Linked DNA regions of Homo sapiens: regions 1 and 3 are each linked to region 2. The links come from fine-mapping of genetic effects on gene expression. A gene starts in region 2. Each other region holds a variant in brackets. All regions are shown on one strand. Distances are between the middles of the regions.

Region 1 (8,169 bases), 21 kb after region 2:
CAGATGCAAATAAAGAAAAGAGGAAAAAACGCAAAACTCCTAACTTAAGATCTTCCCGGTTAACGCGGTCCACAAGGGGCCCTTCAGGGTCTGTGCCATCATCTCTCCCCAGTCCAGAGACAAGGGAAAATGGCTAAGCAGCAGGCCTCAGAGATCTTATTTCTAAGATCACCAGGCCAAACCCAATAGCACTGCCAGGTTCTACGTCTTTATTTTAATACCACCAGGGCTGTCCTTTGAGGGCCCAACAAGGGCAGTTTCTTTCCTCAGGGACATGATAACCGTGGTACTTGAGGAGAATGCAACTTGCACGTGGAAACTGGACTGGAATGGGAGACAGTTCTCTAACACCCTGGATGAACGGGGGGCATGGGAAGGCTGCGGTCATCTCAAGTGCAGATGCCAGGGATATGGTTCAGGGGGCAGAGGCTGATAAACGGGGAAGAACTTTGAAGGAAACTTAAAGAGAACCGAATCAAGACGCTGGGACAGAACGGAGCGCACAAGCCAGGCCGGCCCAGCCCCCTCCTACTTCATCCTCGGGGACCAGAATGCAACCCGGCACCAGTCCGGTCCCACGAGCTTGGATGGCTCGGCGCACACGGGCCTTAAGAAGCCCCTATGCGGGCCTCTGGGCCCCGGTTCGGTGGGAGCGAGGCCCAGGAATGGGAGAGGCCAAGGCAGGGCTGGGGGGAGGGGAGGGGGCGTCCTCACCGGGAGCGGGGAAGCCGGGCGGACGGGCCCGAAGGCGGGCGTCTCCGGCCTCAAGCTTCCCGGCTCATCTCTCCGGCGACGGCGGCGGCCCCGCCACTCCTGCTGTCTTTAGGCGCAGCCGTCTCAATTCAGGATTCCAACGCTTCTGGGCCGCGTGCCGCGCCGCCGAGCACCCCGCCGCGCCGCCTCTGGCTCTGCTTCAGCTTCAGCTTCCACCTCCACCTCCACCTCCGCCACCGCCGCCACCAGCGCCACCGCCGCCGCCGCCACTCCTCCCCCCCTCCTCCTTCCCCTCCCGCGAGCCCCGGGCCCACCGGCAGCGGTGGCGCACGATTAGTACGTCACACCCGGCGAAGAGCGCCGGCGCGGCCACCAAGCGCGCGGTCCCGTCTACCCGAGGACGCCGGCGCCACGGGACTGGCCAGCCCAGAGCGCTACGCGAGGCTGCGCCTGCGCACATCCGCCGCCCGGCCGCGCGTGGCGGCCCCGCCACTTTCCCTTTTGCGCCGCGCTCTGTCTTCTCCGCGCTCGCGGGCCTGACCCTAGCGGCATCCCCAGTACCTTGATCCGGCGGGGGGCGCGCCACAGGAGAGCCAGGAGGGCGGGAGATCCCCGTACGAGGACCGGGCTGAGGCGAGGCAGTGGGGGAAATGGAGCCGGGGTATCATTCATTCTATTTTATTTAACTTTAAGCAGGGCTTGATCAGAAAGAAGAGCTCAGAGGAGTGAGGCAACACCAACACCAGGGCGTACGATACACCCGAGGCTCCTCCGACACCAGTTCCAGCCCGGAAGGGCTTGGAATGGCCTGCCACGCCGGGGCAATGGAGCGCGTGAAAGCCAAACCTTGGGACCCGAAGAGTAATTTGACTGCGAAGGCACCGTCATCGTCGGGCACCCCCTGTAGACGGGCGCATAATAGCTACATCTCTGGAGATAGTGATGGAAACTGGGGTCCGATAGATGGAGAGAAGGACGTAGGATAAGGCTTCTTGTGGGGTGAAGAGGCAGAGGGCACCTGGAGAGAGGTGTGGCATGGAGAACCAGGGGTTTTCCCTAGCAGAGGGCGGCTTCGTGGACTTCGGCCAACCGGCGGGTGCTTCCCTCGAGCGGCCGCTAGATGGTGGTGCTGTTCTGGATGCTTCCAGTGGGCCCCGACCAGGTCTGGACAATGCCTGGCGCCCGTCCCCCGCCCCTCATCTACACACACGCAAGAATTCGGAGCTCCATGGGGAACAGAAGCAAGATATCCGTAAAATCAAAGTCTAGGGGGTGGGAATGAAAAGGGAAAAGTGAGGAACGGGGAGCCAAACCCAGGAAGACGCCTCTGTTCCTGCACATTCCCTCTCCTTTATATACTCAGCTCTTGGCTGTCTCCAGTATGTACCCACCCTGGTCTTCCAAGCTGGGAGCCACTTTTTATAACACAATCACAGTTTCACAAACCCCAGGAAGGTTCCATGTGGAGAGAGGTTAAGTTTCGCCCTTGCCCGGGGAATTATGACACTCAGAATATCCCCTTGGTGTAAATGGAAGACACCTGAGAAAAGAGAGAAAGTAGATTCGCAGTGAAGCACAGCCATCCAGATGCCCTGTTTCCCCCTGCCTTCTCCAGCTCCACCGTTCCTCTGCCTCCTGTAAGGACCCGGCATTCTGCACTTCACTCCTCAGACCCGCCTCTGTTTAGGTTTCCAACCTCCCTCCTAGCGGTAGCTCCCTGCACTGCTACCCCCGGTCAGAGACGTCCTGCTTTCGGCTGCCCACACGGCTCTCACCTGCGCTATAGCAGCTGTTGTAGGCCCGGTCCGGGTGGGAGGGCATACTTCTTATACATCGGAATAGAGTCTCCTGCCTTCCTTGGCCTTCTCGAGACACCACCTGACCCATGGTGAAAGTCACGTCTTGAAACAGGACCTGGCAGGGAAGGGAGATGTTGAAGAAAACAGGATGGCCTGGCTCAGTTCTGGGAGGCCTCAGGAGCGCTAACGAGGGAAGAAAGAAGGGTCTGCTGGGTTTGGTATGAATAGAGGGGTCAGGAACCCTCAGTAGGGGGCCAAAGAGGCCCTCTGTGAAGCTCAGAGTGTGGCTGGGGTTACCTGGCTATACAGCAGATAAACTCCAGCATCCTGGATTCGGACACCATATCCTTGGGCCTGTAGGCCTCTCCCACGCCTAAGAGCTGGTTGCCACATCACCTCTGTCACATCGGAGTCATCTGGAGGTGAGAGTGTGTCGGTCAGGACTTCTTGGCACTCTCAGGTGCTTTTTGGTTCTTTCCCTTTCACCTATAAGGACCCCTTGAGCCCAAGTGCCAGCCCGAGTTCCTGGTTATTGCCCCTCCCCAAAGCCATTATTTAAAATAGTGCTCACCCTTGGAGGTGGCGTTAATGGGAACCAGGTGCAGGACAGAGTGCTGCTCTGAGGAGAGAAGGAGGGAATCTCAGCCGCATCCACTTTCCCCCGTTGTGCTGTTGGCAGCCTCCACCCTCACCCTGACTCGGGCTTACAATCCCCACGCTGCTTGATCACCTCCCACCCCTGCTGCACCCTGGAAGCCTCACTCTTCTGTTTTTGGGTGAGCACTGCTCTCCTTTTCCGGGATCTCTCCCCATTCTCCCAGGCTTCCAGGGCATCGGAACTCTGCTCATGGAAAGAGGGTCAAGGTTAGGTTAAGATGCGAGGGTCCCAGCCAGCCTGCCTTCCCAGCCCTCCCCTGCCCCCGAGATGCCTCAGATCTCTCACGCACCTTTTCCCAGCACCCTGAGTGTTGGTGCTGGCTGCCCTCCAGGATTTGTTAGGTATGAGAAGCATTAACCTTTAACAGTTTCCTTTCCTGGAATGGCCGCGCCCCTGACTTCCAAACCGGAGACCCTCTCTTGCACCCCCTTGAAACTTTGCAGACCAGGAGGCCCAGAGACCCCCCATGCTAACCATCCTCTCCCAGACACCCTCCTCCCCTCACTCACCTGCTCCGGGAGACTCTGCCAGGGATACCCTTCCCCATTCTGGGAGGGGCCTCCTGTCC[C/T]CTGCAGCCGGCTCACCTCTCTCCTGAGGCTCTGCAGCTCTGTTTGTTGGGTCAGCAGAGCCATGGCACAAGCCACGGCCCCCAGAGCTGCCCCCCAACTCAACCAGAGGGCAACTGAGAGTGCCGGCTCTCTGACTGGGCCCCCCATGTTGCCTGGAGGCCCTTTGGGGGCTAGCAAGAAAGGAGATGAGGCTGGCATGAGCTGGGGACCCTGCCAACAGCTGTGGTTTCAAGAGTGGGGTAGCAAGGAGGTGGCGGGGCGGGTAAGGGTACGGGCAGTGGTGCAGAAGGGAAGAAGGTTGTTACGCAAGGAGAAATAAAAAGGAACTTGAAAATAAAAAGGAGGGAGGAGGAAAGCAAGCTAAGGGTACTGTTAGTGCTCCTGGCACTCCGTCGTGGGGCCAGCGTTGCCTTGAGACCCTCCACCCTCCCTCAGCCTCAGGAGAATTAGGTTCCAGTCCCTCTAGGAAGGACAGGGCTGCCAGTGACACCCAGGAGGAACAGGCAGTGCGCAGGAACCCTGGGGCGGCCCCAGGGTTGGGGGAGGGAAGGTTGGCTGGCTAGAGGGCATTGTGCCAGGAGCAGGATGGGGGGCCAAGCTGGGCAGTGTCCAGGGTCAGGGCGAGGGTGGAAGACCCTCGGGGTCAAGCACAGCAGAGATCGCTGGGGCAGTTCACTAGGGGTGACTGAAGGTGGGAAAGGAGGGGTGGGCTCGATGGGGAGGAGAACCAGGGGCACGGAAGCAAGAAACTGGCTGAGTTCTGGGGTTAAGGCTGGGCCGGGTGTGTTGGAATAAGGCCTGCACTACTCCCTGTGCTGAAATTGGCAAGCAGGACTTCCTGTTTCCCGAGAAAAGCTCTTACATAAGGCTCTGGACGAAGAGACAAAGCAGCGGCCTCAAGCCCCCCGGCCACTGCGGGATTCCTCCCCAGCACACAGGGTTCCGGGTTCCCGTGTGCCTGCTGACTCTCAGCCCCTCCTCCAGGCTGGCTCCTGCCCGCCCCACCTCCCAGCCAGGGCCTGTGCCAGCACCTGCTGAATGTCCGAGGCCACCAAGAGGAAGGGCCCCTGCTCCTCCCAGCCAGGAAGGGATTTCCCCGCAGGAGGAAGTCTGCCTCCTAGGCCAAGGAGGCCGCTTCTGCTGTACCTTGGGCGGAGGATTGATTTTTTTCCTGGGCAGTGTGCCTTCCTACCTCTGCTCCCACCTGGGGGCTGGAGGCATGGAGGTCCCCGCCCCCAAGCCTGAACATCATCCCGGAGTTCCAGCTGTGCCGCTCCGCAACGCCCCCCTTCACGTGGCCCCCAGCTACCCTGAGAGTGTCCCCTGAGCCCCAATAAAGAGAGAGACTATGACTTATTCTATTTAATATCCATTTATCAACATTTTGTCACAATAATAATAAAAATAATATCTGTTTTAAAAATCCACAGGGAATTCTCAAGGGAGGAGCTTGTCTTGTTTCTCGCCCCTCACATTTGGGAACTCCTGGCCTAGGCCCAGTCTCTTTGGCTTCCTGCCGCCAGGTCCAGCCCCTCTTAGTGCCTGAAGTGGGGTCTTCTGGACCCATCCTTGCCCACAGAGTACAGTGAACACAATGCCCTGGGGGTCTGTGGCCAGGGGGGAGTCGAGATCACTGGGGGCCTCAAAGGGTCAGGGATTGGGGAGCTAGTGAGGTGGAGAGTGGGCGGTGGGGGAGTTGTAAGATAAGAGTGGGAATACTGTATTTATGTGGGATGGAAAACACGTGAACAGGCCCAGGCAGCCTCTAGAGGGAGGGGCAGGTCTGGAGCAAAGAGCGGCTGAGGGTGGGGCAGAGGGGACCGGGTGCCCAGAGAGCTGTCGAGGGGAGCCGGCAGCCTGGGACGACTGCGGGGAGACCAGGGCCCCTCAGTGAACCTGGAAGAGTCCGAAGTAGGTGAGGAAGGGGGCAGCCTTGAGATGGGCCCAGGGGAGGGTGCGGATCCGCAGGGAGGACCCTGGCCGCAGGGCCAACAGCCCAGACACCTGGCAGAGGCGGAGCTGGGGCCCGAGGGAACTCGCCGCAGTGGCTGAGAATTCCTCCAGGCAGCGCAGGGCCAGCACACCATCCACCAGCAAGTCCAGCTTCAGGTAGACAGCCTTCCCCTCATCAAAGTGCACCTGGGGTGGGGACAACAGGCCGAGTCCAGGCCTCTGCCTGCCCTCGCCTCAATTTCCAATTTCCTCAGCGACGCAGGCATCCCATCCCACCCAAACCCCAACTCACCCTCCCAGCCCTGTAGCTTGTCCCCCACTCTCCTGGCAAACCCTTCGCCACTCTCTTACTGCGTTACCCATGCAGCCAGATGGGGCTTACCTGACAGTACAGGTAGTAGAGCCCAGCCCGGGTGACTATAAACTCCCCGATCTGGCGGTTGTAGCGCAGAGGGCTGGAGCTGTTGATTCTGGCTTCCTCCCAGCCACTCACTGTCCCGTCCACACCTGAACACGGATGCTCAGAGATAAGGAAACGTCTCTCTACAGGACTCCCCCACACTCCCCAGGGATCCATTGAGCATATGAACATTCGGCGCCCACTTTACCCAGAAGACACATAGATCACCCCGGGCAAGGGAGGACCCATCCCCTATGATGCCCATAGTTGACTAGGAAGTTATGTGAAAAAATCTAATGTATATGGCCAGAGACATTCAGGGCAGATTGTCACCTGCAGTCACTTCTGGGGAGAAGAGTAGAACTGAAGGAGAAGCGTGAGGGGATTTAATGTTTTACTTCATGGATATCTATATTATTTGCTTCTTTTATATGGAGGATGTAAACATACATTATCTGAATTAGTACAACTAAAAATAATAAAATGAAACCCAATTGTCCATCAACAAAATGTCTATCCATATAATGGAATATTATTTGGCCATAAAAAGAGTGAAGTACTGATACACACTATGGCACAGATGTGCCTTGAAAACATCATGCTCAGCCAGGTGCAGTGGCTCACGCCTGTCATCCCGGCATTTTGAGAGGCCAAGGTGGGCGGATCACCTGAGGTCGGGAGTTCGAGACCAGCCTGGCCAACAAGGTGAAACCCCGTCTCTACTAAAAATACAAAAACTAGCAGGGCATGGTGGCAGGCACCTGTAATCCTAGCTACATGGGAGGCTGAGGCAGGAGAATTACTTGAACCTGGGATGGGGAGGTTGCAGTGAACCAAGATCATGCCACTGCACTCCAGCCTGGGCAACAGAGCTAGACTCTGTCTCCAAAAAAAAAAAAAAACAAAAAAAACGCTCACTGGGCATTTTTATTTCCACCAATGGGTTCCCACAACCTGTGCTCTGCAGAGTCTCCAGCCCTGAAGTTTCCTTCCCTTCCTTACCCTGCCAACTGCACCATCTGAACAGCAATAGCCCCTCAAACTCATCTCAACCAACACTGAGCTGACCCCCCTCATCCCACTCTTGCTTTACTGTCTGTTTTCCACATTTGGCTTCTGGTTTTGCCACCAGGGGGATATTCAAGCCTCCCTCTCCTTTACCTACATCATTAATCGATCACCAGTTCCTATCTATCCTGCCTCCTAAATAGCTCTCTCCCCTCTCTCCCCCATCTGGTGCCTCTGTCTGGTTTTCACAGCATTCCCTGTTTCCATTCTGGCTTCCTCCAGTTTATTCCCTACACAAAGCCACAGAATGAGTCTCTAAGATGCAGACGTAAGCCCGCCTCGCCTCGCCTTCCTCCTTCCGATGGCTCACCTCAGAATAGTTCCCACATGCCACCGTGTGGCCTGGCTTCTGTCTCCAGCCTCATCCCCATCTCGCTCCTCTAGCACTTTCTGCTTCTGCCACGCTGAACTTAGAGTCCCCCAGCCTCATCATGCTCTGGGCAAACCCGGGGCTTTTGCCCCAGGGGCTGCTTCTGCTTGCACCCACCATTCTTGACCCCTTGCCTGTCTTGTCTTACGCTCCTGCTTCAAGGCCCAGCGGCACCTTGCGATGCAGGGAGAGAATCCCTGACTCCACAGCCATGTCTGTCTTCCCCTGTGTTGCCAGGTATCTTGGCCACTTTTATTATTGTTCTTGTCATATTCCACTGTAATTACAAATTTTTTTTTGAGATGGAGTCTCACTCTTGTCACCCAGGCTGGAGTGCAGTGGCACAATCTCGGCTCACTGCAGCCTCCGCCTCCCGGGTTCAAGTGATTCTCATGCTTCAGCCTCCTGAGTAGCTGGGATTACAGGCATGTGCCACCAAACCTGGCTAATTTTTTTTGTATGTTCCTGTAATTACAAATTTATATGCTTGTTTCCTCTCCTAGACAGTGACTCCTTAAGAGTTGGTCTGAGGCTGGGCACAGTGGCTCACGCCTGTAATCCCAGCACCTTGGGAGGCCAAGGTGGGTGGATCACGAGGTCAGGAGATCGAGACGCTCCTGGCTAACACGGTGAAACCC
Region 2 (8,169 bases):
TTTAACCCTGCTAGCGATCTAATAAAGGTTGGCATGATTTGACTTAATTTTTATTTTGTTTTATAAAAGTTGACTCTTCGTTTTTCATTGTCGCTACAGCACAAACTCCACAAAGAAGTAATTCCACCCGGTGACTTCCCCACTGGCACTAATATGGTGTCCTCCCTCTAAGGAGCCCGAGACACTTCCGCCCTTCTCAGAAGTGACTTCCGTCCAGCTCGGCATGGCGGCAGTCACTGCCGTCACTTAGTCGCCGATCAAGGCTTGGACTAAGGGCCCACGGTCACTCGAGTAGGACTTGGATCGGATGCTGAATAAAACTCACCGTGAAGCAAGTCCCACTGAACGAAAAGTTGGTCGTAGCATTTCTCAGGTAAAAGAATCGGCACGAGCAGCCGTTTAAGCGGTCCGTCCGCCTCGGCCGCCATATTGCAAAGCTAGCTTCCGCCAGTCTCTCCAGACCGCCATTGACTTTCGTTGCGCGTGCGCGCTGCGGACACTCCGCCTCCCGTTCTTTTCCCGCGGCGAAGCTGGCCCGCCCCGTGCCCCGCTCTTTCTGACGCTACCCACCCTCACTCTAGTGGCGTAAAATAAGTCTCAGTCAGGGACCACGTTTTGGACGCGCTGTTGGAATTGTAAAGCTTGCCGAAGCTGCACGCCTGCGCGGTTAGACCTCCCACGCCTTTGTTGACGCTTCCAGTTTGGAAGCCAGATTTACACCCCTGCCTTTCTCCGCTCCTCCTGCTGGGCGCCATCTTGTCTTCTCCTAGCACACTTTGTATTGTTCGAAGTTGAGAGAGAAGGAGCCGGAGTCTCCGAGGTGGCGTTGGGTGGGGGCGCTACTAGCTCCCGTTCTCTCAGCGTCTCTAGAGGGAAGGGCGCCGGTGGGAGCAGGAGAGTCTGCACCGGGCAGGCCTCCTTAGGTGCCGGGTTGCGCGCAGGGCCCTGTGCTTGTCTCGCCTCCGGTTGGCTCAGGCCTCGGAGCATGAGTGCGCCGGCAACTGCTGGGCCCGGGACAGTGAAGCAGAGGAGGAGGTGGGGGAGGCGAGCCCAGGTCGGGGAAGGGCAGCACCTGAATCACCCTTGGGGCCCAGACCCCCAAGAGTCTCCGGGGAGCCGAGGCCTGGCGAGGCAGTCCCGGGATTCGCCCCCTCCCCGCTGGCCCGAGGGCGCACCACGTGCTGGGCAGAGACTTCGGCGAGGCCGAGTGGACCCTGCAGCGCTGCTTGGGAAAGGGCACCTTGGACTACCTGGTGGGGGCGTTGTGCTTCGTTACCGACCGCCGGGACGCCAACCCACGGTGCCCACCCGTGCGTCATTCCGCTGTGGATCAGCCCTTTGGCGGCCCCCCTCCAAAGTCTACAAGGTCACACGGATGTCTGCAGGCAGAGGTGGGGCTGCTGGGGCCCTGCCAGGTGAGGGCTGCCCTTGTGGGGCAGTCTCTGGGCCTTGGAGGCCGGAAGCCTCCTGGGGCTCCTACGGCTGGGGGGTGCTGCTCATCCTGGCTCCCAGGGATTGCGCCGTAGCCAGCTGTAATGGGTGGGACTGGCGCTCACTGCTGGTGCAGGCTGTGGCCATCTGGGAGGTCCTTTCTGGAATCTGGACCTTGGCTGTCCTGAGAGTGACACTCCTCATCTCAAGTACTGGGGGCATGAAGTTAGGCTTGGCAGGTGGCCCCGTGTGGGGGGCATGCTGTTCCCAGGAGCCCCCAGTGGAGGTCAGAGTACCCACTGCTCCTTCTTGATTCAACCCCTTGTAGGTGGGATAGGAGCATGCCAGGTGCTGCGAGGGTTTAATCGGGCTCTTCTGCTGGCCTTGAATATGGTGGACAGGACAGGACATTCTCATTGCTCAGGAGCCACTGGCGCTGCCTTTGGGAATGAAGTTCCACAGCCCCCCACTCATTGCTTTGGCTGTCTGCTGCATTTGAAACTGTACGAGGGTCAGGAAGAAGGCTGCGGGGATGAATGGCTCTACCGGCTTGCCACGGATGGGGAACTGGAGCAGCCAGTGGCCCCAAGAGGAGGAAGGAAGGGAGGCACGGCAGACCCAACACCAGCTGTGCCAGGCTTTGGGGGGTGAACCCATGAGGCATCGTCACACACTGACATTTTCATCCCTCCTCAGCAGCTGCTTCCGGCTCCCTGAGACCCAGCCATGGAAGGCATAGAAAGGCATGTGACAAGAAACTCATGGCTTTTAATCCTGGCAGGACAAGGAAAACCCCGTCAAAGATTTGCATAAATTTTGCTGCTCTCCTGCTGGGGGGGGGGGGGGGGCAGTTCGTCACATTTAATAAAATTCTCTCCCTCCCTTCTCCCGACTGCATTATCTCATATTTATTTATTTGAGACAGTCTGGCTCTGTCGCCCAGGCTGGAGTGCAGTGGCGCGATCTTGGCTTAGTGGCGCGATGACGGCTCACTGCAACCTCCACCTCCTGGGTTCAAGCAGTTCTGCCTCAGCCTCCCAAGTAGCTGGGATTACAGGCCAGCTGGGATTACGCCGCCACACCTGGCTAATTGTATTTTTAGTAGAGACAGGGTTTCACCATGTTGGCCAGGCTGGTCTCAAACTCCTGACCTCCAGTGATCCACCTGCCTCAGCCTCCCAAAGTGCTGGGATTACAGGCATGAGCCGTCATGCCCGGCTTTCTTTTTGTTCTTCAAGAAAGGGAAGGAAAATAACATTGTCTTTGAGCCAGTTGCGTGTCGAGGAAATAAGGGTACCCCCCCACCACACCCCAACCCCCTCAGTGCCCTGGGGTTTGAAGCAAATGCTCAGAGGGCCTGGTAGGCGGATGGGCGTCTCCGGATGATGCAGAAAGCAATAAGCACCAGGGCGAGGAGGCCAAGAAGGATCAGGCCGATGATGAGAGGCAGCAAGATGGACCGGTCACTGGGGCAGGAGAAACCTGGCGGAAGGATAGGGCAGGTAGGTATTTGCAGTGACGTGCTGGTTGGGATAAAGGTGGGAGGAGGGAATGGGGGGATGCTGGGGAGTAGGAGATTGGTGAGGAGCTCACCGCAGTGACTCAGCAGTGATAAAAGGGGGAAACTGGCAGAGTCTTGTAGAGGATGGAAAGAAAGCTGCCCTGTAGCCATGACAAGCTGGGAGAGCGAGATTTGGGGGGTTAAGAAGAGAGATGAGTGGCTTATGGGCCTGGGGAAGGGGTTTTCAGTGCAGTGGGAGGATTCTAGGAGGGAAGGAGTAGGTAGGTCTTACTTTGCCCAAAGACCCCTGTGTGGGGCAGCTGAGCAGCCTGGAGCCTCAGGGAGAGCAGGTCGAGGTGGACAGCTGGTGAAAGAATGATGCTCGAGTTGCTGCAACTGAAGCTCTGCCCCAGGGGTGCTTGGAGATCTCGAAGGGATGCATTCTGAGCCGAGAATGTCCACTCTGGAGGAGTGAGGAAGGGTCAGATCCTATCCACCTCCCTGGCCCCAGCTTAGTCCTTTCAGGAACCCTGGCGTCTAGTGGTAGCAATGAGAAAGGGAAGGAGGTTACTTACGTGCTGCGTGGGGGAAGGACACATTGTACTCCACCGCCATGTAGCTCAGGTAGACAACCTTCTGCTGGAGGTCCTGTGGGGCGAAGAGGAAGGCGCAGGTGGTATCCCTCTCCACAGAGGAAGGAGTAGCGTGTGGGATTGGGAGGGGAGGGGCGCCGGGAGGCTGAGTGAGGGGTGAGACTGAGGTCATGGCTATACCTGCATGAATCCAAAGCTGAGGTGTCCATAGGGGAATGAGAGAAGCAGGTGGGGATGGGCACCCTCACAGCTTCCCTGGACCTTGGTTTTGTTGGGGTTCAGTACAGAGATGCCCCAGGCCTGCGGAAGTTAAAGACTGGAAGGTCACAAGACTGCATGCGATGCCGGCCAAGGTTCCCTGTCCCCTCTTCCTTCTTCCCTCTGAGCCTATATCCAGTCCTGCCTCCCTCCCCTCTCATCCCCCAGTTTTAGCTTTACCTCTCCTCCACCCTGGGTTGTGTACATGACTCGAATCTGAATCTGGGCTTGGAGGTGGACACAGGGCTGGGAACCATTGGTCCACGTGTAGTCTCCAATGGTCTCCTTGGAGGTTGGGCTAGGACTCGGAGAGGGTGGAGGTGGTTCTGGGTGGGCAGAACTGGTGAATCCTGGGCTGGTGGCAGTGCTGTTGCTTGTTGGATGAACCGTGGCATTTCCATGACTAGTGGTGGCAGGACTGTGAGTGGCAGTTGAGGGTCCCTGGCTGGTGGCAGTGCTATTGCTTGTTGGATGAACTGTGACGTTTCCATGGCTGGTGGTGGTGGGGTTGTGAGTGGCAGTCGTGGGTCCGTGGCTGGTGGTGCCTGTGGTGGTTGTCCTGTGAGTGGTGGTTTTGTGGCTCTTGGTAGTCCTGTGGCTGGTTGTTCCAGTGCTCTCTGTAACCGTGGGTGTCACCGTGAAGGATGGCAGCAAAGTAGCTGATTTTTTGTGAGGACAGTCATTCCCTGTCCCCTGGGCTTTTGGCAGAGAGGAGATGGTTAGCAACCCAGGGCAGGCTCCCTCCCAGGGGCCCCCTCCCCTCAGCCTCCTTCCTCCTTACCTGCCAGTAGCCCCAGCAGGGCCCCCGAGAAAAGCACAGCCAGCCTCATGGCTGAACCGCCTCACCCAAAGTCCAGCTAGGCTGTCTGCACCAGTTGCTCAACCCTGCTCCCTCAGCCCTCTCTTGGAAAGGAGGAAATGAAAGTCTCACTTCCTGTACTGGAGATGATCCCACCCACAGCCTGACTCAGGGGCCTCAGCTCTAGCCACCTCTCTCTTAGTCATTAGTTTTTGTAATTAAGTTAGGGGACTGTTGGCCCTGCTTCATCAGGGCAAAGTCAACAGTGTCACATGGGTGCAAACGGAGTCCTAGGGCAGTTGATCCACAGGGATCCATGTGTCAAACTCAGCGAAACTTGCTTGGCAGTTGTGGCAAGTAGCTATGGGAACAGCTGAGGTACAGGCCCCTCCCTTGGTGGGGAAATCGGTTTCCACTCCTTTCCCCTGGACCTCTGGGCTGACCCCTGTACTACTTCCTCTTGGCTGAGGCATGTGAGGGGCTTGTGACCATCCACACCCAGCCCTTTACAGAGGGGCAGCACTCCAGTCAGCATTGTCATTCACAGAGCCGAGAACATGGCTTTCCAGCGTCTGAGAACTCAGATGGTGACAAGAAAGCAACAGCCCAAAGGTAACCATCTGCTGGGGAAGGGGGGAGCAGAGATGCACCCAGTAGCAGGTGGGAGAGGGAAGGGGAGGTAAGAAATGAGAAGCCCAAACAGGCAGTTTCCAAGTCATTTTATTCAGAATTTTGTGTTTGTTTCCTGAATCAATAAATACTATACAAAACAATGTAAAAATGGCTACCATTTTCTCTCCCCTGCTTCCCCCCACCTGGGGACAACCCCCTGGGCAACCTCACTTAGGGGTTTTAGGGGTTCTCCCTCCAGATTTGGTCCAGCAAATGAGGCTGAGTGACATAGTCCCTTGAATCACTTTCAAAGGAGCTCAGCTGAGGTGAGGAGAGCCTCTGGGATCTGGAGGTTACTAGGTTAGGGAAATGGATTAGTGTTTTTTTTTTTTTTTTGGGAGAAGAGCCGGCGCCTGGGGCAAGAGCCTACCCCAAAGAAAAGGGTGTCTAAAATGTTCACGGTTCCTTCTTTTGCCTCAAAAAGTGACATTTATTCAAAGAAAAAAAATGACAAGATGTCCATCCCTTGGCTCCCTTCCCTCCCCCCTCCTGCTGCTCCTCAGCCCCCAGAGATTGAGCCCTGGCTGGGGCTGGGTGGCAGGACAGCCCCTCAGATGAGGTCAGCAACATTGAGGGGCATTTCCTCAATGGAGGTGTTGTAGAAGGTCTCAATGTCTCGAAGAGTCCTCTTGTCTTCTTCTGTCACCATGTTAATAGCCACACCTTTACGGCCAAACCGTCCACCTCGACCGATTCTGGAAAACAAGGAAGGGGATGAGGAATATCAGGAGCTTTAAGCCCAGGGAGGGCCAGGTGTGAAGGGGTAGGGGAGTGTTCCAGATCTACGCTTACCTGTGGATATAGTTTTCCCTGTTGGTGGGAAGGTCATAGTTGATGACTAAAGAAACCTGCTGCACATCAATGCCTCTGGCCTACGTCAAGAAAGACAACTCTTCAGCATGTGCACGGAGGACACTCTATCCCGGAGGGAAGACACTTAGGCATCCATGTGGGCAGCCAAGGAAGGCAGAGGAAATAAGCATCCCAGTTCCCCAAAGGCCTTAGGCATGCCAGATTCTATTCCAAGCTGCTACTTTCCTGAGAGGCACTGATGTCCCCTTGGAGAGGGAATCACCTTGGATCCTCCCTTCTGCCTTTGCTATCAGTTCCCTCTACTCACCAGCAGGTCAGTGGTAATCAAAACTCTGCTAGAGCCAGAACGAAACTCCCTCATAATCACGTCTCGTTCCTTTTGGTCCATATCTCCATGCTGGAAGAGAAAACAAATATGCAGCAGACCAGGTAGGCACCTGGGTTCCAGGAACCCTGGCTTCAAGTAGGACACTTCTGACGGGCAGACCCACAACAGGCTGGCAGCGGGCAAACACACCATGGCGGATACAGTGAAATCTCGAGCATGCATCTTCTCGGTGAGCCAGTCCACCTTCCTCCGGGTGTTGATGAAGATGACTGCCTGGGTGATGGTCAGGGTTTCATACAAGTCACATAGTGTGTCCAGCTTCCACTCCTGGAGGTTGGGGGACAAAAATCAGTCAGGGGCTATACCCAACAACTCACTACCAGGCCCGCCTCCTGCACTGGGCCCCACCTCTCGTTCCACGTTGATGTAGAACTGGCGGATACCCTCCAGGGTCAACTCTTCCTTCTTGACAAGAATCCGAATGGGGTCCCTCATGAACTTCTTGGTCACCTCAAGCACATCAGAAGGCATTGTGGCTGACAGCAAAACTACCTAGTGGAAAAAAAGGCCAGTCTTAGAGTGCTGGTTCCTTCCTGAGGCCTGCTCCCTTCCCTAGCCACACCTAAAACTGAAGCAGATGCATAAAAAGGCTCAAGAATCCAGTATATGGTTCCCCTGGCACTTACTATTTTTCAAGAATCATTAGCTATTCAAGCAAGACTGCCCTCACCTGGGTGTTGCTGTTGAGCTTTTGGAATATGTCATAGATCTGGTCCTTGAATCCACGGCTTAACATTTCGTCAGCTTCATCCAGTACAAACATCTTGATGTATTTGGGGGCTAGAGAAGAAAAAAAAAGCCAATATATAGCATATGATTAGGGAAATGTGGGAGAGATATATCCAACTTCGCTGATAAAAAACAGAGAGGAGCCAAGTAGTCTGCTCTCAGAGTACAAAGACTGATCCTTTGCCCAGGACCTTCCCGCCAGGCAGACAACAGCCCTGGGAAGTAGGACACTGCCAGGGCTGCACTGGCAGGGAAGCCAGAGGCTCAGATGACACGCATGGGCTCCATCACAGAGCAGCTCTTCCCCCAGAGAGAAACCAGCATCCTTGGGAATGACTCTGGCTTACGCTGAAAGACTGGAAAGCGTGCACAAGAGCAAAGTGACCCAGGGGATTGGAGAACCGAATTACTCACACAGGTATCTCCGGTTAAGCATATCAAACACACGGCCAGGGGTACCCACGATGATGTGGGGAGCTTCCATCTGCAGTTTCTGCACCTCAGCACGCACGTTGGTGCCCCCGATACAGGCGTGACAGGAGGCGCCCATGTAGTCTCCTAGTGCCATGACCACCTTCTGTATCTGAGCAGAGAGAGGCAGGTGCTCATATGTCAGTTACCACTGTGCCCGGCACCATTCTTAAATGTTTTTCATGTATTGATTCCTAACCAACAACTTTGGGGCATGCACTATTATTAAACTCACATTCAGCTGAGAAACAGGCAGAGGCTAAAATCCACTTAAGATCGTGCTGTCAATAGGTGGCAAAGACAGGATTTCAACTCAGTCTGGTTCCTGAGTGTACAGTGATTCACAATGAGGCCGCTCAGATAATTAATTCAGTTTCTTTACTCTAGATATTTAGAACCCTTAACCTTCTGAAAACTAATTTGACCAACTGCCTCATCACGCAGCAACCATTTTTTTTTTCTTTTTTTGAGACAGAGCTTTGCTCGTTGCCCAGGCTGGAGTGCAATGGCACAA
Region 3 (8,169 bases), 22 kb before region 2:
CTTAATTTTTCCTTCTGTAAATTGTGTTCATCACAATTTTGAACTTGTCTAGTGTTCCGATTATTGTCTTAGGACCCATGCATCAGGGCAGCGAGTCTGCTCAGATCTCTTGCTGTATTGCGGAGGTAGGCCCTTCTCTCTCGACAGATCCTCATGTCCTCTAGGTGTTCCAGGACAGCCTCACACTGTCTCATGGGATATTCTTAGCCTTGCTGAATGTTGTTGGTATTTTAATTGAACTCTGGCAGGCTGCTTAGCACAACAGGAGGCAGACAGATAGGGAGGCCCCTGTGGGAGCCTGAGTAGATCATTGGTTTCCAGGCTGTTCTGATGCAGGTGGTACATACACCTCTCCATGACAATATCATTTCCTTTCTCTGTTTGACTGCCCATATTCTTTCCCCAGTGCAGCCTTTCAGGCTGTCTCATTACACCACTTGTGTCCCTATCTAAAACTCAAGTTTAAGGTTTTGTGGTGTCTTATTCCCTTGATGGCTAAGGTGGAAGTAAAAGGTCATTTTATTTTTTTTGCTTTTTTCTAAAATCCATTCTAGGGCTTTGTGAAGGATGTCCATGAAGACTCTGTCACCATCTTCTTTGAAAACAAGTAAGACCTTGGGAATAGAGAATCCAGCATACTAGGTCCTAGAAGGAGAGTGGAGAAGAGGGGGCAGCTGAGTCCTATGAGGCATGTAATAGGTTGGGAGAGCTGAGGGTTTGGGTGGGAACTCATATGGATCCCAGGAGAGGAAAGGGCTGAGAATTTGGTGAGGGTGGGGGCATTTGACCCAGTATTTAGAGTCTAGAAAGAGATGGAAGACACTACTATGGAGCAGGGCCTGGGGTTTAGCCTCTAATTATCCAGATAGGTGGAACTCGCCCAGCTGAGGCAATAACCCTTTTGTAAAGAAATGGGCAACCATATCAGTCAGAGTAGCTTTTTCATATTATTGTTTCTATTATAGCTGGCAGAGTGAGAGACAAATTCCTTTTGGGGATGTCCGGCTACCACCTCCAGCTGACTATAATAAGGAGATCACAGAAGGGGATGAAGTGGAGGTAAGGGCTGTGGAGTACACCTTTCTAAATGTCACTTTTCCCCAGGATTCTAGGCTTTTCTCTGGTTGGTTCATGTTCCTTCCTCCCCAACTAAGCCATATCCAGCCATGTAGCCTATGGAAATGTAAAATGCAACAGTTCCCCTTTTATCACTGTTGTGATCAGCCAAACTCTCAGGAACATCCCCAGTTTCAGGCGATTTGCCTTCCATTTATGGTAACAACATCTAAAATCCAGTGCCCTCTGATTTTTTTGTTGTTGTTGTTGTTGTTGTTTTGAGATGGAGTCTTGCTCTGTTGCCCAGGCTGGAGTGCAGTGGCGCGATCTCAGCTAACTGCAACCTCCGCCTCTTGGGTTCAAGCAATTCTTCCACCTCAGCCTCCCAAGTAGCTGGGATTACAAGCACCTGCCATCATGCTCGGGTAATTTTTGCATTTTTGTAAAGACATGGTTTCACCATGTTGGCCAGGCTAGTCTTGAATTTCTGACTTCAGGTGATCCACCCGCCTCAGCTTCCCAAAGTGCTGGGATTACAGGCATGAGCCACCATGCCCTGCCGTCCTCTGATTTTAATTAGTTCCTTCCTCTGGTTTCTTGTATCCTTGGTTTAAGATACATCCCAGGCTGGATGCAGTGGCTCACACCTGAAATCCCAGCACTTTGAGAGGTCGAGTGGGGCAGATCACCTGAGGTCAGGAGTTCAAGACCAGCCTGGCCAACATGATGAAACCCCATCTCTACTAAAAATACAAAAAATTAGCTGGGCGTGGTGGCGGGCGCCTATAATCCCAGCTACTTGGGAGGCTGAGGCAGGAGAATCGCTTGAACCCAGGAAGTGGAGGTTGCAGTGAGCTGAGATTGTGCCATTGCACTCCAGCCTGAGCACCAAGAGCGAAACTCTGTCTCAAAAAAAAAAAAAAAAAGATGCATCCCAAATACCTTTTTTTTCTTTTTGAGATGAAGTCTCACTCTGTTGCCCAAGCTGGAGTGCAGTGGCGCGGTCTCAGCTCACTGCAACCTCCACCTCCTGGTTCAAGTGATTCTCCTGCCTCAGCCTCCTGTGTAGCTTGGAGTACAGGCATGTGGCACCACACCCGGCTAATTTTTGTATTTTTAGTAGAGGTGGGGTTTTACCATGTTGGCCAGGCTGGTCTTGAACTCCTGACTTCAGGTGATCAGCCCACCTCAGCCAAAGTCCTGGGATTATGGGCATAAGCCACCGCGCTTGGCCTCTTTTTTTTTCGTGGAAGTGGGGTCTCACTGTGTTGCCCAGATCGTTCTTGAACTCCTGAGCTCAAGAGATCCTCCCACCTTGGCCTTCCAAAGTGCTGGGATTATAAGCTTGAGCCACTGTGCCCAGCAGCCCCAAATATCTTAATGGTTGTTCTATTGTTTATGTTGCCCAAGCTGGTCTTGAACTCCTGGGCATAAGCAGTCCTTTTGCCTCAGCCTCCCAAAGCGCTGAGATTACAGGTGTGAGCCCCACCATGCCCGGCCTCCTCATCCCTTTCTTGATGCTTTTGGGTGGTCTTCAATATCTCTTTGATTCTCTACTTTTCTTTAGGTTTATTCTCGAGCCAATGAACAGGAACCTTGTGGCTGGTGGCTGGCCCGGGTGCGGATGATGAAGGGAGATGTGAGTGACTGGGAATGCCTTTGGAGAACTACTGAAACAAATATGTTATTCATAGAAAGTTGCTCAGGTCATCCACAACTTCTCCTTTTTTACCATGTGCCAGTTCTATGTCATTGAATATGCTGCCTGTGATGCCACCTACAATGAAATTGTTACCCTGGAGCGACTTCGGCCAGTTAATCCCAATCCCCTTGCAACCAAAGGCAGCTTCTTCAAGGTTACCATGGCTGTGCCCGAGGATCTGAGAGAAGCGTGAGTGTTAAGGATGGTGGGAATGAGGGCCCTCTTTACAGCCCTAATCTCTGGCTTTATTTCTCCCAGGCATCACTCCCACTTTGCAGTTTTCTCTGTTGTTCCCCTGGCCCTCTACTAGAGCCCTTCTTGCTAAGAAGACACTTAGTTTCTTTATTTTCCCATCCTTGTTCTTTAACTGTGGTCCCTCTTCTTTTCTTTTCCTTTCTTTCTTTTTTTTTTTTTTTTGGAGACAGAGTTTTGCTCTTGTTGCCCAGGCTGGAGTGCAGTGGCACAATCTCGGCTCACCGCAACCTCCACCTCCTAGGTTCAGGCGATTCTCCTGCCTCAGCCTCCCGAGTAGCTGGGATTACAGGCATGCACCACCACACCCGGCTAATTTTGTATTTTTAGTAGAGACAGGGTTTCTCCATGTTGGTCAGGCTGGTCTCAAACTCCTGACCTCAAGTGATCCGCCTGCCTCAGCCTCCCAAAGTGCTGGGATTACAGGCGTGAGCCACCGCACCCGGCCCAGTCCCTTTTCTTTTCTTATTTACTCAGCCCTGCTTCTCTGAATTTTTTTTTTTTTTTTTAATAGAGACAGGGTCTCACTATGTTGCCCATGCTAGTCTTGAACTCCTGACTTCAAGTGATCATCCTGCCCTAGCCTCCCAAAGTGCTAGGATTACAGGTGCAAACCACCATGTCCAGCCTCCCCCGAACTCTTCACTGTACTCTCTGCATTCTGCCCGCTGAGTACTTTTTTCCTCTGCAGCTGCTCCAATGAAAACGTCCATAAAGAGTTCAAGAAAGCCCTGGGAGCCAACTGCATCTTTCTCAACATCACAAACAGTGAGCTCTTCATTCTGGTGAGTTTATTCTGCCTGAATTTCACATAAGCCTTTTGAACATTTTTTCTTTTTCCCTTTTTAACCCTTTTGCAGAAAGAGAAGGGCTTAAATGTGCTTATATTTATTTGTCAAGAGGACTTTATTGCTCCTGACTCCTACAGGCCCAGGTAGCCCTACCTTTTTTTTTTCTTTTTTTTGAGACGAAGTCTCACTCTTGTCACCCAGGCTGGAGAACAATGGCACGATCTCGGCTCACTGCAACCTCCACCTCCCGGGTTCAAGCAATTCTCCTGCCTCAGCCTCCTGAGTAGCTGGGATTACAGGTGTGCGTCACCACGCCGGCTAATTTTTTTTTTTTTGAGATGGAATCTCACTCTGTCGCCCAGGCTGGAGTGCAGTGGCGCGATCTCGGCTCACTGCAACCTCCACCTCCCAGATTGAAGCGATTCTCCTGCCTCAGCCTCCCGAGTAGCTGGGATTACAGGCGCCTGCCAT[T/C]GCGCCTGGCTAATTTTTTTTTGTGTTTTTAGTAGAGACAGGGTTTCACCATGTTGGCCAGGCTGGTCCTGAACTGCTGATCTCCTGATCCACCCGCCTCGGCCTCCCAAAGTGCTGGGATTACAGACGTGAGCCACCGCGCCCGACATGCCCGGCTAATTTTTGTATTTTTAGTAGAAACAGGGTTTCACCATATTGGTCAGGCTGGTCTTGAACTCCTGACGTCGTGATCCGCCCGCCTTGGCCTCCCAAAGTGCTGGGATCACAGGCGTGAGCCACCACGCCCGGCCTCTGACCCTTTTTTTTTAAACCTGATAATCATGTTGCCATCTGGGTTAGAGACCCTCTCTTGATATTTGGACTTTCAGAAATAGAGTATGTAGCTCTCACCTTATGCTTGCTCCTTGCTTTCTCTCTAAACCATTTTCCTTCAGTACCCTGATAGTCAGCCTTTGTGGGACTGACAATGAGTCTCCTCCTTCCTAGCTTCATTTCTTTTTTTTTTGAAAACAGAGTATTGTTCTGTCACCAGGCTAGAGTGCAGTGGCGCAGTCTCGGCTCACTGCAACCTCCGACTCCCGGGTTCAAGCGATTCTCCTGCCTCAGCCTCTGGAGTAGCTGGGATTATAGGCATGTGCCACCACGCCCAGCTAATTTTTGTATTTTTAGTAAAGACAGGGTTTCACCACGTTGGCCAGGATGGTCTCGATCTCATGACCTCGTGATCCGCCTGCCTTGGCCTCCCAAAGTCCTGGGATTGCAGGCATGAGCCACCGCGCCCGGTCTCCTAGCTTCATTTCTTAACCCTTTTCCCGGGACTTAGGCATCCTGATTTCTAGTCCCTGGCTCTCCCTTAGTGTTTATTCCAAGCCAGTTTTAATGACTTTCCCACTGGTTTCCTCCCAGTCAACCACAGAAGCCCCTGTGAAGCGAGCATCTCTGCTGGGTGATATGCATTTCCGAAGCCTGCGCACCAAACTGCTACTTATGTCCCGCAATGAAGAAGCTACCAAGCACCTAGAGGTAACTTTTAGCTCCTTTTCCTTCTGCTGAAGGGTATTGTCTTCCTCCCTTCCTACCCTGTCCTCCATCCATGATCTTGTGTTTACAGAACAAAGACTAAGGCTTTTTCTGGGCAATTAAACCTGGGTCAGCTATTTTATCTCAGACTCCTCCAGATGGCAGAGCTCTATCATGGTATAGTGCAATTATTTTCAAATTTCTTTTAGCCAATTTTTTTTTTTTTTTTTTGGGAGACAGAGTCTCGCTGTGTCGCCTAGGCTGGAGTGCAATGACACGATCTCGGCTCACTGCAACCCCTGCCTCCTGTGTTTAAGCGATTCTCATGCCTCAGCCTTCTGAGTAGCTGGGATTACAGGCGTGCGCCACCACACCCGGCTAAGTTTTGTATTATTAGTAAGATGGGGTTTTGCCATGTTGCCCAAGCTGGCCTCGAACTCCTGGCCTCATGTGATCCACCCGCCTCAGCCTCCCAAAGTGCTGGGATTACAGGCGTGAGCCACCACACCTGGCTGAATGGTTTTTTTTGAGACGGAGTCTCACTTTGTCACCCAGGCTGTAGTGTAATGGTATAGTCTCAGCTGACTGCAACATCCACCTTCTGGGTTCAAGCGATTCTCCCGCCTCAGCCTCCTGAGTAGCTGGGACTACAGGCTTGTGCCACCACACCCAGCTCATTTTTGTATTTTTAGTATTGATGGGGTTTCACCATGTTGACCAGGCTGGTCTCAAACTCCTGACCTCATGATCCACCTGCCTCGGCCTCCCAAAGTGCTGGGATTACAGACATGAGCCGCTGCGCCCGGCCTTGGTCTTGAACTTCTAGGCTCAAGAGATCCATCTGCCTGTACTTTGCAAAGTGCTAGGATTACAGGTGTGAGCCACCACATGCAGCCTAGACTAGAATATTTATTTTTTAGGGTGGGCGCGGTGGCTCACGCCTTTAATCGCAGCACTTTAGCACTTTGGGAGGCCGAGGCAGGCAGATCAATCCGAGGTTGGGAGTCGAGACTGGTGAAACCCCATCTTTACTAAGAAGACAAAAATCAGCTGGGCGTGGTGGCACATGCCTGTAATTTCAGCTACTCGAGAGACTGAGGCAGGAGAATCGCTTGAACCTGGGAAGTGGAGGTTGCAGTGAGCCAAGATTGCGCCATTGCACTTCAGCCTGGGTGACAAGAGTGAAACTCTGTCTCAAAGAAAAAAAGGATATGACTGGGCGCGGTGGCCCACGTCTGTAATCCCAGCACTTTGGGAGGCTGAGGCGGGCAGATCACCTGAGGTCGGGAGTTCAAGACCAGCCTGGCCAACATGGGTGAAACCCCGTCTCTACTAAAACTACAAAAATTAGCCAGGCGTGGTGGCAGGCGCCTGTTGTCCCAGCTACTCGGGAGGCTGAGGCAGGAGAATCGCTTGAACCTGGGAGGCGGAGGTTGCAGTGAGCCGAGATCACACCATTGTACTCCAGCCTGGGCAACAAGAGTGAAACTCCATCTCAAAGAAAAAAAGGATATTTCTTGTTTTTTTGTTTGTTTTTTGAGATAGCGTCTCTGTCGCCCAGGCTAGAGCGCAGTGGCGCTATCTTGGCTTACTGCAACCTCCACCTCCCAGATTGAAGCGATTCTCCTGCCTCAGCCTCCCAAGTAGCTGGGATTACAGGTGTGTGCCATCACACCTGGCTAATTTTTGTCTTTTTTAGTAGAGATGGGGTTTCACCATGTTGGCCAGGCTGATCTCAAACTATGGACCTCAGGTGATCCGCCCACCTCGACCTCCCAAAATGTTGGGATTACAGGTGTCAGCCACCACGCCTGGCCTGACTAGAGTATTTCTGTGAGATCTTTTTGAATTCTGACATCGTATAATTGTCAGATTCCCTTTCGTTGGTATTATACTATTCTAAGTGAATAGGGTGTGTGTGTTTGAATACCATTTCCATTTATCAAGGGAATTGATCTTTTTGGGAGGCTTTTTTCTGTGCCTGTGCAATTTCTGGGTCATGATAATCTTTGACTTCTTCAGGGATCCTGCTCAGGGCACTGGCAGGTAAAAATTCACCATTACCTTCAGATGATACAAACTTTATTTTTTGTTTTTGTTTTTTGTTTTGAGATGGAGTCTCAGTCTGTTATCCAGGCTGGAGTGTATGTAGTGGTGCGATCTCAGCTCACTGCAGTCTCTACCCCCCGAGCTCAAGTGATCCTCTCACCTCAGCCTTTGGGTGGGTGGGATTACAGGTGCATGCCACCATACCTGGCTATTTTTTTTTTTTTTTTGGAGACAGTTTCCCTCTGTCACCCAGGCTGGAGTGCAATGGCACAATCTCCGCTCCCTGCAACCTCTCGCTCCTGGGTTCAAGCGATTCTTGTGCCTCGGCCTCCCAGGTAGCTGGGATAATAGGCACGCGCCCCCACGTCTGGATAATTTTTGCTTTTTTAGTGTTTCACCATGTTGCCCAGGCTGGTTTTGAACTCCCGACCGCAGGTGATCCACCTGCCTTGGCCTCCCAAAGTACTGGGATTACAGGCATGAGCCACTATACCTGGCCCTAATTTCAGTATTTTTAGTAGAGACGGAGTTTCACCATGTTGGCTAGGCTGGTCGCGAACCCCTGGCCTCAAGGGATCCACTTGCCTTGGCCTCCCAAAGTGCTGGGATTATAGACATGACCCATTGCACCCGGCCTAATTTTTGTTGTTGTTTTTTAATTTTTTGAGACGGAGTCTCATTCTGTCGTCCAGGCTGGAGTGCAGTAGTGCGATCTCAGCTCACTGCAGCTTGTGTAGTTAGCGCAGAGTGAGCAAAGGGAGACCGATACAAAATTCGGTCAGAGAGTAGATCATGTAAGACATGTACGGTAGGCTGAGGAGGGGGGAT

What was found.
Region 1: its variant is fine-mapped to the expression of CD68 in whole blood (TOPMed, PIP above 0.99).
Region 3: its variant is fine-mapped to the expression of CD68 in whole blood (TOPMed, PIP above 0.99). The same link has a PIP of 0.9 or more in blood mononuclear cells.

The regions. Positions count from the first base shown.
Region 1 is chr17:7,554,809-7,562,977 of GRCh38, reverse strand. It overlaps TNFSF12-TNFSF13 (TNFSF12-TNFSF13 readthrough), which reads right to left. Exons shown (of 11, transcript NM_172089.4): 6 at 6,076-6,200; 7 at 3,276-3,354; 8 at 3,085-3,132; 9 at 2,811-2,929; 10 at 2,490-2,628; 11 at 1,377-2,254. The coding sequence ends at 2,145. It overlaps TNFSF12 (TNF superfamily member 12), which reads right to left. Exons shown (of 7, transcript NM_003809.3): 6 at 6,076-6,200; 7 at 5,097-5,879. The coding sequence ends at 5,628. It overlaps TNFSF13 (TNF superfamily member 13), which reads right to left and starts at 4,228. Exons shown (of 6, transcript NM_003808.4): 1 at 3,681-4,228; 2 at 3,276-3,354; 3 at 3,085-3,132; 4 at 2,811-2,929; 5 at 2,490-2,628; 6 at 1,377-2,254. The coding sequence starts at 3,938. The coding sequence ends at 2,145. It overlaps SENP3 (SUMO specific peptidase 3), which reads right to left and starts at 1,059. Exons shown (of 11, transcript NM_015670.6): 1 at 715-1,059. It also overlaps SENP3-EIF4A1. RefSeq lists enhancers at 1-289, 1,556-1,805, 4,180-4,229, 5,040-5,099, 4,685-5,478 and 1 more and a silencer at 916-995. The variant C/T (reference allele first, on the strand shown) is at 3,740.
Region 2 is chr17:7,576,122-7,584,290 of GRCh38, reverse strand. CD68 (CD68 molecule) reads right to left here and starts at 4,653. Exons shown (of 6, transcript NM_001251.3): 1 at 4,565-4,653; 2 at 3,964-4,481; 3 at 3,706-3,825; 4 at 3,508-3,580; 5 at 3,225-3,395; 6 at 2,180-2,913. The coding sequence starts at 4,613. The coding sequence ends at 2,780. It overlaps EIF4A1 (eukaryotic translation initiation factor 4A1), which reads right to left. Exons shown (of 11, transcript NM_001416.4): 5 at 7,599-7,767; 6 at 7,126-7,235; 7 at 6,804-6,947; 8 at 6,585-6,722; 9 at 6,375-6,464; 10 at 6,047-6,126; 11 at 5,285-5,949. The coding sequence ends at 5,805. MPDU1 (mannose-P-dolichol utilization defect 1) reads right to left here and starts at 439. Exons shown (of 7, transcript NM_004870.4): 1 at 326-439. The coding sequence starts at 428. SENP3-EIF4A1 (SENP3-EIF4A1 readthrough (NMD candidate)) reads right to left here. Exons shown (of 22, transcript NR_037926.1): 16 at 7,599-7,767; 17 at 7,126-7,235; 18 at 6,804-6,947; 19 at 6,585-6,722; 20 at 6,375-6,464; 21 at 6,047-6,126; 22 at 5,285-5,949. It also overlaps SNORD10, SNORA67 and MPDU1-AS1. RefSeq lists enhancers at 101-630, 1-741, 741-790, 742-1,615, 3,759-3,828 and 1 more and a silencer at 5,464-5,652.
Region 3 is chr17:7,598,535-7,606,703 of GRCh38, reverse strand. FXR2 (FMR1 autosomal homolog 2) reads left to right here. Exons shown (of 17, transcript NM_004860.4): 2 at 555-607; 3 at 966-1,059; 4 at 2,624-2,695; 5 at 2,799-2,947; 6 at 3,702-3,795; 7 at 5,179-5,295. Among named protein-coding and RNA genes, the nearest start is that of FXR2, 12 kb to the left of the region's middle. The variant T/C (reference allele first, on the strand shown) is at 4,273.